Regions from separate parts of the Homo sapiens genome. Here region 1 is linked to region 2. Evidence: fine-mapped expression QTL. A gene starts in region 2. The other region holds a variant in brackets. All regions are shown on one strand. Distances are between the middles of the regions. Region 1 overlaps MEIKIN (meiotic kinetochore factor). Region 2 holds the start of MEIKIN (meiotic kinetochore factor).

Region 1 (5,384 bases), 36 kb after region 2:
TAACTATATCAGTCAAGATTGAGAAAGACTTTCCTGTACATTTCTAAAACTCCTTTCCTATAATTCACTGCCAGAGGAACCCAAAGTGTAGTTTCCAAATAGGCAAGGGAAAAGAACAAGAAACAGAGATGAAACCAATGGTGGTTGCTCTTCCCACAGCATATTCTGAGTCTAAATCATGCCCAAGCTGAGAAAAGGAAAAAATTTAAATTGCATAAGGAGAGTTTGGATTTGTAATATTACACTGAACTTTTTGTTACCTAAAAATAGCTACTTATTACAAGAGAATGCCAGAAAGGTGTTAGTAAAAAGAAATCTACCTGAAAGTTCATTCAGAGGCGAGAAGGTACTATTTTGACAGGATACGTTTAAAAGGAAATATGAAAGAATAAAATTGTTTCTGTTTACTGAGTTCAACTATTCAATTAATCAGTGTAGGAATTTAGAAAATTCCCTTCTCACATTTGGTTTTCAACTGCATTTTCTTGCTACGGACTCAGAAATCCCATTTTTGTGGTCAGAGGCTGAGCTTTGATCCTTTCTTATTTATTCCTTTTGTGATAGCTAGTCCTTTCCTACACATTTAGATAGAACTGGGGGTTGTCTAGTTTGTAGAAGTACAAAATAAAAAAACCCCAGGATATTAATTTCAAAAAAACCTTTTACTGCAGTCTAGCCTGGGTAACAGAGCAAGACCCTCTCTCAATAATAATAATAATAATATAATAATAATAATAATCAATCTGTCATGTATCTTAAAATTCTTTCCACAAGAATCTTAGGAAACATGATTGCTATCCCTTTTGCATAAATGAGGTAACCAAGACTCAAGACAGGCTAAGTAGCTTTCCAAAGGCCACCCAAGTGTGAGTAGTGGAACTGGAGTTTAAAGCAAGGTCTGTCTTATTCTAAACACTATGCCCTGTCCTCTACGCATATTGTTTCACACTCATAAATGTATAAATATATTGCCTTTTTTATTAAACTATTTGTTCATATAAATACCATAACATTTTTCTAAGCAACTGTATATTTTCCCACAGGATAATTAATCTCAAATAAATATCTTTATTTTAAGTATTATTTGAGGGTTTTTGAAAGTTACTGAAGGATTTAGAAAATACCACTAAACAGTTTGTTCTTGTTATAGAGTGATGACAGTAGCAGATCAAAATGTTTCTCCAAAAGCAAAGTGTGCTTCAAATTCAGAATCAGGTAACAAATAATGAAACTAATTATTTTATGTAGTAATTGTAATATTTATGTTAAAACACGATTCTGTGTTTATTTTTGCTACCTGCAACATGCATTAACAAAGTTAGTAGCCCAGTGAACCGAGTACTTTTTAGCTTGGTTGTATTTAAGAAATGAAGATATGTGGGATCAGAAAGTGGGTCTTAGCTATCCCCACAGCATCAATCATTTATTCATTTAATAAACATTTAATGAATATGAACTCCATACTAGATATTGTTATATATACTAGTGGAAGTGATACACTTTTCCTCCCCTTGTAGATTTCAGTTGTAGGAGAGGACAATAAGTGAACATATATTGTAGTTATGCATAATGATTGAAAAATAAAGGGATAAGCAAAGTGTCTTGCAAACCCTTATGTAGTTTACTATTAGGATAAATTTAGCAAGACATTTACATCCTTATTAACCTCTGCTGTATCTCATATTTTTCTATATTTCCTGCATCAAGTTTTATAGCATCCATTTGAGAGTAAACTTGAAGAATTGCTGATTTTGCTCTTGATGGTTGTAAATGTTTGTATGTATATATATTTGCATAATCTTCATTTTAAGAAGTTATCTTAATGAGCATTTACTAAATGCCACACATTAAGTTAGGAACTGTAGGTATAAAACAATTAATATACTTTCTGTTCTAAGCAAAATTAGTCTAGTGATAAAAACTAATCTTGTAAAAGCACAAAATCCTTGGAAGGAGCAATACCTTCTACCCTGGAGGGTTAGCATTGGAAGAAGGATTTGTTTTACAGATCAAAGAATAAGGGAATGTGTGAATAACAGATGAGCACTAATTAAAGGGAAAGTGGTAAGTGTACCAAAATCAACCATGATTTTACCTAGGTTTTGCCAAATAAAAAGTGTTGCTTTAGCTGTGGAAAATATTTACAAAGCTTGGTGGTAGGGCAGAATAGTGATTCTTGAATTCTGTATGTTTCTGTATTCTTACTTTTATATGGTAACTTAAAATTTAAAATTAAATAAGCCACTTACTCTAGAGATTTTTTTTT[A/TA]CACATTTCTTTTTACAATTTTTTTATTATTAATATTTGTGGATACATAGATGGTGTATATATTTATGGCTTACATGAGATATTTTAATACAGGCATGCAATGCATAATAATCACATCAGGGTAAGTAGGGTATCCATGCCCTCAAGCATTTATCCTTTGTGTTACAAATAATACAGTTATACTCTTTTAGTTATTTTTAAATGTATAATTAAATTATTTTTTACTACAGTCATGCTGTTGTGCTAGCAAATACTAGGTCTTATTCATTCTTTCTATTTTTTTGTACCCATTAACCATCCCCACCTTCCCTACAAACCACTCCCCCTCTCCAACTATCCTTCTCAGCCTCTGGTAACCATCCTTCTATTCTCTATCTCCACGAGTTCAATTGTTTTTGTTTTAGATCCCACAAATAAGTGAGAACAAGTGATATTTGTCCTTCTGTGCCTGGTTTATTTCACTTATCATAATGACCTTCAGTTTCATTCATGTTGTTGTAAATGACAGGATCTCATTCTTTTTTAAGGCTGAATAGTACTCCATTGTGTTTATGTACCACATTTTCTTTATCCATTCATCTGTTGATGGACACTTAGGTTGCTTCCAAATCTTGGCTGTTGTGAATAGTGCTGAAACAAATGCGGGAGTGCAGATACCTCTTTGATACACTGATTTCCTTTTGTTTGCGTATATACTCAGCAGTAGGATTGCTGGATCGTATGATACCTCTATTTTTATGTTTTCGAGGAAGCTCCAAACAGTTCTCCTTAGTGGTTATATTAATGTACATTCCCACCAACAGTATACGAGGGTTCCCTTTTCTCCACATCCTCACCGGCATGTTATTGCCTGACTTTTGGATAAACGCCATTTTAACTGGGGTAAGATGATATGACATTGTAGTTTTGATTTGCATTTCTCTGATGATCAGTGATGTTGAGCACCTTTTCATAGACCTGTTTGCCATTTGTATGTCTTCTTTTGAGAAATGTCTGTTTAGGTCTTTTGCTCATTTTTAATTGGATTATCAGATTTTTGTTTTTCCTATAGAGTTGTGTGAGCTCCTTATATATTCTGGTTATTAATCCCTAATTAGGTGGAGTAGTTTGCAAATATTTCCCCCCATTCTATGGGTTGTCACTTCACTTTATTGATTGTTTCCTTTGCTGTGCAGAAGCATTTTAACTTGATGTGATCTCATTTGTAATTTTGCTTTGGTTGCCTGTGTTTGTGGGGTATTACTCAAGATATCTTTGCCCAGCCCAATGTCCTAGAGACTTTCCCCAATGTTTTCTTGTAGTAGTTTCATAGTCTGAGGTCTTAGATTTAAGTTTTTAATCCATTTTAATTTGATTTTTGTATATGGCAACAGACAAGGGTCTAGTTTCATTCTTTTTCATGTAGCTATCCAGTTTTCCAAGCACCATGTTAAAGAAACTGGCCCTTCCCCAAAGAATGTCCTTGGCACCTTTGTAAAAAATGAGTTCGGTGTAGATGTATAGATTTATCTATGGGTTCTCTTTTCTGATTCCTTGGTCTATGTGTCTGTTTTTTATGCCAGTACCATGCTGTTTGGGTTACTGTAGCGCCATAGTATAATTTAAAGTCACGTAATGTGATTTCTCAGTTTTGTTATTTTTGCTCAGGTTAGCTTTGACTATTCTGGATCTTTTGTGTTCCATATAGATTTTAGTACTTTATTTGTATGAAGAATTTCATTGATATTTTGATAGGGATTGCATTAAACCTACAGATTGCTTTGGGTAGTGTGGCCATATTTACAATATTGATTCTTTCAGTCCATGAACATGGAATATCTTTCCAATTTTTTGCTGTCTTCTTCAATTTTTTGCATCAGTGTTTCATAGTTTTCATTGTAGAGATCTTTCAGATCTTTGGTTAAGTCCCAGATATTTTAGTTTATTTGTTGCTCTTGTAAATGGTATTACTTTCTTGACTTCTTTTTCAGGTTGTTCACAGTTGGCATATGAAAATGCCACTGATTTTTATATGTTGATTTTGTATCAAGTAACTTTGCTAATTTATTTATCAGTTCTACTAGTTTTTTGGTGGAATCTTTAGTTTTTCTTTTAAGTATAAGACCATGTCATCTGCAAACAAAGATAATTTGACTTCTTCCTTTGCAATTCAGATGCCCTTTATTGCTTTCTCTTGTCTGACTGCTCTAGCTAGACTTCCGATACTATGTTGAATAATAATGGTGAAAGTGAGCATCGTGTCTTCTTCCAGGTTTACAAAGAAAGGCTTTCAGTTTTTCCCCATTTAGTATGATACTAGCTGTAGGTCTGTCATATATTGGCTTTTATTATATTGAGGTATGTTCCTTCCGTACCTACTGTTTTGAGAATTTTTATCATGAACGGATGTTGAATTTTATCACGATTTTCTAGCATAATTTAAATGATCATATGGTTTTTTTCCTTTATTCTGTTGATATGATGTATCATATTGATTGATTTGCATAGGTTGAACCATCCTTGCGTCCCTGGGGTAAATCTCACTTGGTCTGGAAGAATGATCTGTTTAATATGTTGTTGAATTCAGTTTGCTATTTTGTTGAGGATTTTTACATCAGTATTCTTCAGAGATATTGGCCTATAGTTTTCTTTTTTTGATATGTCTTTGTCTGGTTTTTGTATCAGGGTAATACTGATAGCATTGAATGAGTTTGTCAGTATTCCTTCATCCTCTATTTTTTGGAACAGTTTGAGTAGGATTGGTATTAGTACTTCTTTAAATATTTGGTAGAATTCAACAGTGAAGTCACTAGGTCCTGGAATTTTCTTTACCAGGAGACTTTTTATTATAGCTTCAATCTTGTTACTTGTATTGTCCTGTTCAGGTTTTGGATTTATTTATTTATTTATTTTGAGACGGAGTCTCACTCTGTTGCCCAGGTTGGAGTGCAGTGGCACAATCTCAGCTCACTGCAACCTCTGACTCCCGGGTTCAAGTGACTCTCTTGCCTCAGCCTCCTGAGTAGCTGGGATTACAGGCGCATGCCACCACGCCCGGCTAATTTTTGTATTTTTAGTAGAGATGGGGTTTCACCATGTTGGTCAGGCTGGTCTCGAACTCCTGACTTCGTGATCCGCC
Region 2 (5,384 bases):
TCTTGTCATCCAAGCAAAAATAAACTGGTTTGTGGTTGGATTCCCATAGTTCACGGATAGCACCACAAAGATGCTCAGTGGGTTACTCCATAAGAAAACATCATTCAAAAGGATTTACTTTGGGCTCCAGTGAATCTCAAACCCACAAACTGGCTGTTTTCCCAAAAGATTTATTCAGAAATCTCTTTGACATTTGTTTTCCCATGGAAGTTAATATCTTCATGACTGTTCCAAGCCTAGTCAAATCCACCATGTGTTGAAATGAAATGCTGATTACTGAGTTTTGGGTCTAGGTATGGAAGCAGTGCAATGGGGAAATGGAAGAAGTTTGAACACTCATGATTAAACACTTGCACTGGTGTTTGCAGATTTGGAAGTGGAGTAGGGGGAGATAGATGACTGAATTTGAGATATCTCTGCCCTGTCTCATCCTTTTTAGGAGACACGTTTCTTTCCCCCTTTATAGGTTGACTCTAGGTGAAGTATCAAAGAGACCAAGTCTGTCTCTAGTTCCTTCACTTCCCCTTGCCACCAAGGAATTCAAGCTCCTCTCTTTGCTCCCCCTACTTTTCTCCCAGCCATGTGTTAGGAAGAATGGGAGTATGACAAGCGCAGCAGCCAGATGCCAGGAGAACCATGTTCCCTATGCCAATCATCTGTTTTAAATAGCTTCCCTACACTCTGGTTTCCTCAGTGGCAAAATGAGGGGGCATCTAGATCATCTCTAAGGACCCTTTTGGCTAAAGAAATCATATCAAAGTTTATTTCTGGTTTTGAAACCTGATACGTTAATTCCCACAAACCTATGGGAATTACTTGATGACATATCAGTGAATGTAATTCAGTATAGTGAGACAGAGTTCTAGGGAACAGGACCACCAAATGGCAGACCAGCTTTTGGTTTAACCTATTTTCATTTTGCAATGTTTCTTCCATTTCTGGGCCTAAGGCACCCCAGGCTCTAGACCTCCCAAATGTCATTTAAGAAGTCTGAATTTTTTTCACAACAGCCCCCAAAGGGAGAGGGGGGAGCATAAAGGCCTGGCTTGTAAACTAGAGACTGCCTGCCAGCATATTATGGACACGACTAAAGAAAGAATGTTGAAAGATGATAATTGCTTTATACTGCAGCAAGGCTGTGAGATCTTTAACTGAAGGACCATTTCTGATTCACTTCTGTATCCCCAGGACCTACCACAGTGCTTAATACAGATTAAGGTGTTCAGTAAATATTGATTCAATGACTCAAAACCCGAGGTAAAACCAGGTAAGAATGCCTACCATCTGTTCTTTAGAAAGCTAGATTTTGATGATTAATTATCTAGTAAATTGATTATCATAAATGTTTCTGTGAGCAGATTTTAAATAAAATATTCAGTGATTATATTACAAAAATACTGTGGATATATATGTGCTTATATTCGCACATACAAGACTGAGGTGTTACAGAAAAACCTTTAAGCTTTTCATAGTTTTATCTCTTCAAACTGCATTTTAAATGTTATGAAATATTTCCACTTTTTAGAATAAAAAGATGGTTATTGTTATGTGCATAATATGCTCATCTGATGTCGCCAGATGGTTCAACCTAGGGTATGGAGAGAAAGGGAGGTAATTCCAACATATCTCTAATTGACAGAGCAGAAGAGTTTGCTACCGAGCAGTCAATGGGCTCACTGCCTGATGAATGCAGAGGCTAATACCATGGCACTGGCTTTTGGGAAAAGAAAAGCTTTATTGCAAGTGGGCTGGCAAGGAGACAGGAGGAAATGCTCAAATCTGTCTTCCTAAGCTGGGGTTTGGTTTGGTTTTTATAAGCATAGGGTAAAGAGATGTGATCTGATTGGATCTTGTAATGAGGTGATGCTGGGAGGCATGATCTGACTGGATCCTGCTATGGGATGAAGCCAGAGCTCAACCCGGTTGGATCCTGCCATGCCATATCTACTTCTTAATTCAGTCCCTCCTCCTTGATCTGAGCACTTGGTTTCCCCTGTGGCTGCATGCTTGGTTCATCTAGGCATGCTCAGGTTACATGACCTCAGGGTTCATGGCAACTGAAAAACAACTCACAATTTTGTTACATAAAAGTTGAACCAAGGCTGGGCAAGGTGGCTCACACCTGTAGTCCCAAGAATTTAGGAGGCCAAGGCAGGAAGATCACGTGAGGCCAAGAGTTCAAGACCAGCTGGGATAACATAGCAAGACCCCGTCTCTATAAAAAAATTTACAAATCAGCTGGGCATGGTGGCATGTGCCTGTAGTCTTAGCTACTCGGGAGACAGAGGTGGGAGGATCACTTGAGCCCAGAGTTTGAGGCTGCAGTGAGCTATGATTGTACCACTCCACTCCAGCCAGGGTGACAAGCCAGACCCTGTCTTAAAAAAAAAAAAAAAAAAAAAAGAGGAGAAGGGGAAGGGGAAGGGGAAGAAAGAAGAAAGAAGAAAGGAGAAAAGAAGAAGAAGAAGAAGAAACAGATCGGTCTGGTGCAGCAACAAGTTGAGGCCCAGGGCACAAGGAGGAGAGCCCCTATGGAATCTTCTACCTTAACCACAAGGATGCCCAGATGTCTAGAGATGGCTCCTGGACACAGGCTAAGGGACTGTTTGTCGTCCAGAAGCAGCCTCCTAGAGCCCGGGATCTTCAGAGGCTTGGTTAGCCTCTTAATTACCATAGCTTCCCAGTCAGTTGCAGGCCCAGGGGACTGAAGTTGATTCCTCAGGGAGAAGCTCCTTGTCACTTTAAGGTGCATTCAGTCCTCTTTGTGACCTTCCTGCACTGAGGCCAACCCCTCACAAGACTGCCTGTGCTGGTGGCCTAAAACTCCATTACTAAGGCCTTATGCAGTGCTGATAGGGAGAGCTTGCTCAGAGGAAGTGTTGGGCCCACCCAAAGGAGGGAACGCCTTTACTCCTGCATGCCCAGTTGAATTAAGCATGCAGCCACAGGCGAAACCTAAGTGCTCAGACGGAGGAGGAGGGGCTGAATTAAACCTTTTTCTGGACGAGGAAAAAGTTTTTTCCAAAAAACTCTCGTTTCGCTGGAGTTGAAGGAACCTGCGCCAGAAGGCCAGAAACCACTGGGCCCCTATAGGAAGGCTGGGCGGCTGCCGCGCTCCTCCGTTTTCCCAGAAGCCTCTGCGCGGCCTCACAGAGATAAAAGCGCGGGAGCGAGGCCCGGCGGCTCCAGTTCTGGGGCTTTTGCTTTCGCTCGATTAGTTGCTGTGAGGCTGCTCCGCGGGCCTCGCCTGGACGCTGACTCCCTGTGACTTAGCCCTGATCCTCAGGAAGGCAGGCCATCGAGAGTCCAGAGGCACCCGTGGCCTGGGGGTAGGGTGGGATAGCAATGTGGCCGCTACGGGTCTATACCCGCAAAAAGCGGGAGGGTCAGAGGCTCAATCTCACCCCGACGCCAGACCTAGGCTCTCCAGCGAAGGCCGAGGCCCCGCCAGGTACAGGCTCAAGGCTCGCCCACCGTAAGCTCAGCCGAGCTGCCTCCGGGACGGGACCGAGGGCGGGCGGGGGTGCTAGGCCTCGGGCCCAGGACCCCCCCGAAGCCGGTGGGTAGGTTTCTTGCCCTGAAACGTGCCGCCCTCTCTCAGGTTCGAAGAGAAAAGGCAAAGTGCACGGCTTGTCGAAGATTGCAGAGAAAGCAGAGCGGAGCAGGCAGGGAGGTAGCGGCTCTGGGCCGTTCAGGTATGTAGCCTCCAGTAACAGCCCGATCCTAGCTTGCCACCTCAGAAAACTTCAAGCCGAATTTTCTGCTAGTAGCCTTTTATTCTAACAGTCAAGGAGCAAAACAAATACAGTACTCTGATTTTGCTCTTCTCAGAACATGGACCCCAAAATTTGACTTCAGGAAGATTTATTTTTAAAAAGGGGAAGGCTTGCCAATTTACGTAAAAGGAAGTGAGATAAATTGGTCGGTGAGCTATACGATTGTGTCACTGCATTTGGGTTTTGGTGCAAGTCACCACTCTGGTCCTTACTTCTTCCTAAAGATGTCCCTAAAGAGCCTTTCAGATTCTAAAGAGTCTGAACAGAGACGTGGAGAGCCAAATCCAGATGGTGCAAACTAATTGCGTTGTCTCTTTGTTAGCCCTCGCTTAGGAGTTACAGGAGAGAAAAGCCTGCAAGAAAATAGGTCTAGTGAAGACACCCAGGATGAGAAGATTGCATCGTTGCGTGTATGTATGCTTCTCTTTTAGTCCTTGGACACACTTAGTGTAGAGACTATCAGTACCTGATGTACCTCCGGATGAAAGAATAAAATGGGCTTTGTTCTGTAGATGTTACATAGCTCACCAGTATTTTTATAAACACTTACGTGTCTTTAGACAGGGCCTTGAATTTCTGACTTGGGTAGATTCATAGTCATGCATTTTTGTTTTTCTCTTTCTCTTGACACGTTTTTGGAGAAACGTCCATAATTGGTGAATTTTCTGTATGACAAATACAAAATGTTACTTAATAACTCCTTTTTTCATGTTTTCCATTTGATTTTCCATTAACAACTGGAAACATTCATTACTAAGGGTTTAATATGTTACAGAGCATTCTAATGTTTATTCATTAGAATATTTTATAACTTCTTGATGTGCTGTATTTAATATGAATTCTGTACTATATTTTAAAGTTGTACAGCACTAATTTAGGGAAGCTCAGATTTTAAAAATTGCTTGTGACTCATCTGACATTAACATTAAACTTCATAGTCAAGTTCCTTTTTTTTTTTTTTTTGGAGACAGAGTCTTGCTCTGTCACCCAGGCTGGAGTGCAGTGGCACAGTCCTGGCTCACTGACTGCAGCTTCTGCCTCTCGGGTTCAAGCGATTCTCCTGCCCCAACCTCCTGAGTAGATGTGATTACAGGTGTATACCACCACCCAGCTAATTTTTGTATAGAGGGGGTTTCTCCAGGTTGGCCAGGCTGGTCTCGAACTCCTGACCTCAAGTGATCTGCTCGCCACGGCCTCCCATAGTGCTGAGATTACAGGCTTGAGCCATCACACCTGGCCAAGTTCTATTTTTTTTTAACTTAATATTCCTTTATAACATGTTTTTGGGGGAAGGCAGTTTCAACACAAGACATTTTTTTAAAAGGCTTTTATCCATAGTTTAACAGTGTAAAGTAGTCCTTGTAGAGTATTTATACTATGAAAAAATAGTGTTTTGAAAGTTTCTTAAAATTTTTATATATTTCTGTTCCTTTTCTCCTGTGCTTTAAAAAAAATGACCAGTTGTCTTATTGTATATTCCCATACATTAAATAGTCTTCAAAAATATGACTTTCAGTGTCTTCATAGTGCTTTGTCTTGTAGATAGATACACTGTAATTTGTATTACTATTTCCCTGTGGTTGGGAAATTGAGATTGTTTCCAAGGTT

The links. PIP is the estimated chance that this variant, and not a neighbour inherited with it, causes the effect.
Region 1: its variant is the best candidate, but not a certain one, in a credible set for the expression of MEIKIN in blood mononuclear cells (TOPMed, PIP 0.51).

Annotation. Positions count from the first base shown.
Region 1 is chr5:131,907,646-131,913,029 of GRCh38, reverse strand. It overlaps MEIKIN (meiotic kinetochore factor), which reads left to right. Exons shown (of 13, transcript NM_001303622.2): 8 at 1,151-1,215. Among named protein-coding and RNA genes, the nearest start is that of MEIKIN, 35 kb to the left of the region's middle. The variant A/TA (reference allele first, on the strand shown) is at 2,267.
Region 2 is chr5:131,943,467-131,948,850 of GRCh38, reverse strand. It overlaps MEIKIN (meiotic kinetochore factor), which reads left to right and starts at 3,188. Exons shown (of 13, transcript NM_001303622.2): 1 at 3,188-3,451; 2 at 3,602-3,695; 3 at 4,099-4,186. The coding sequence starts at 3,346.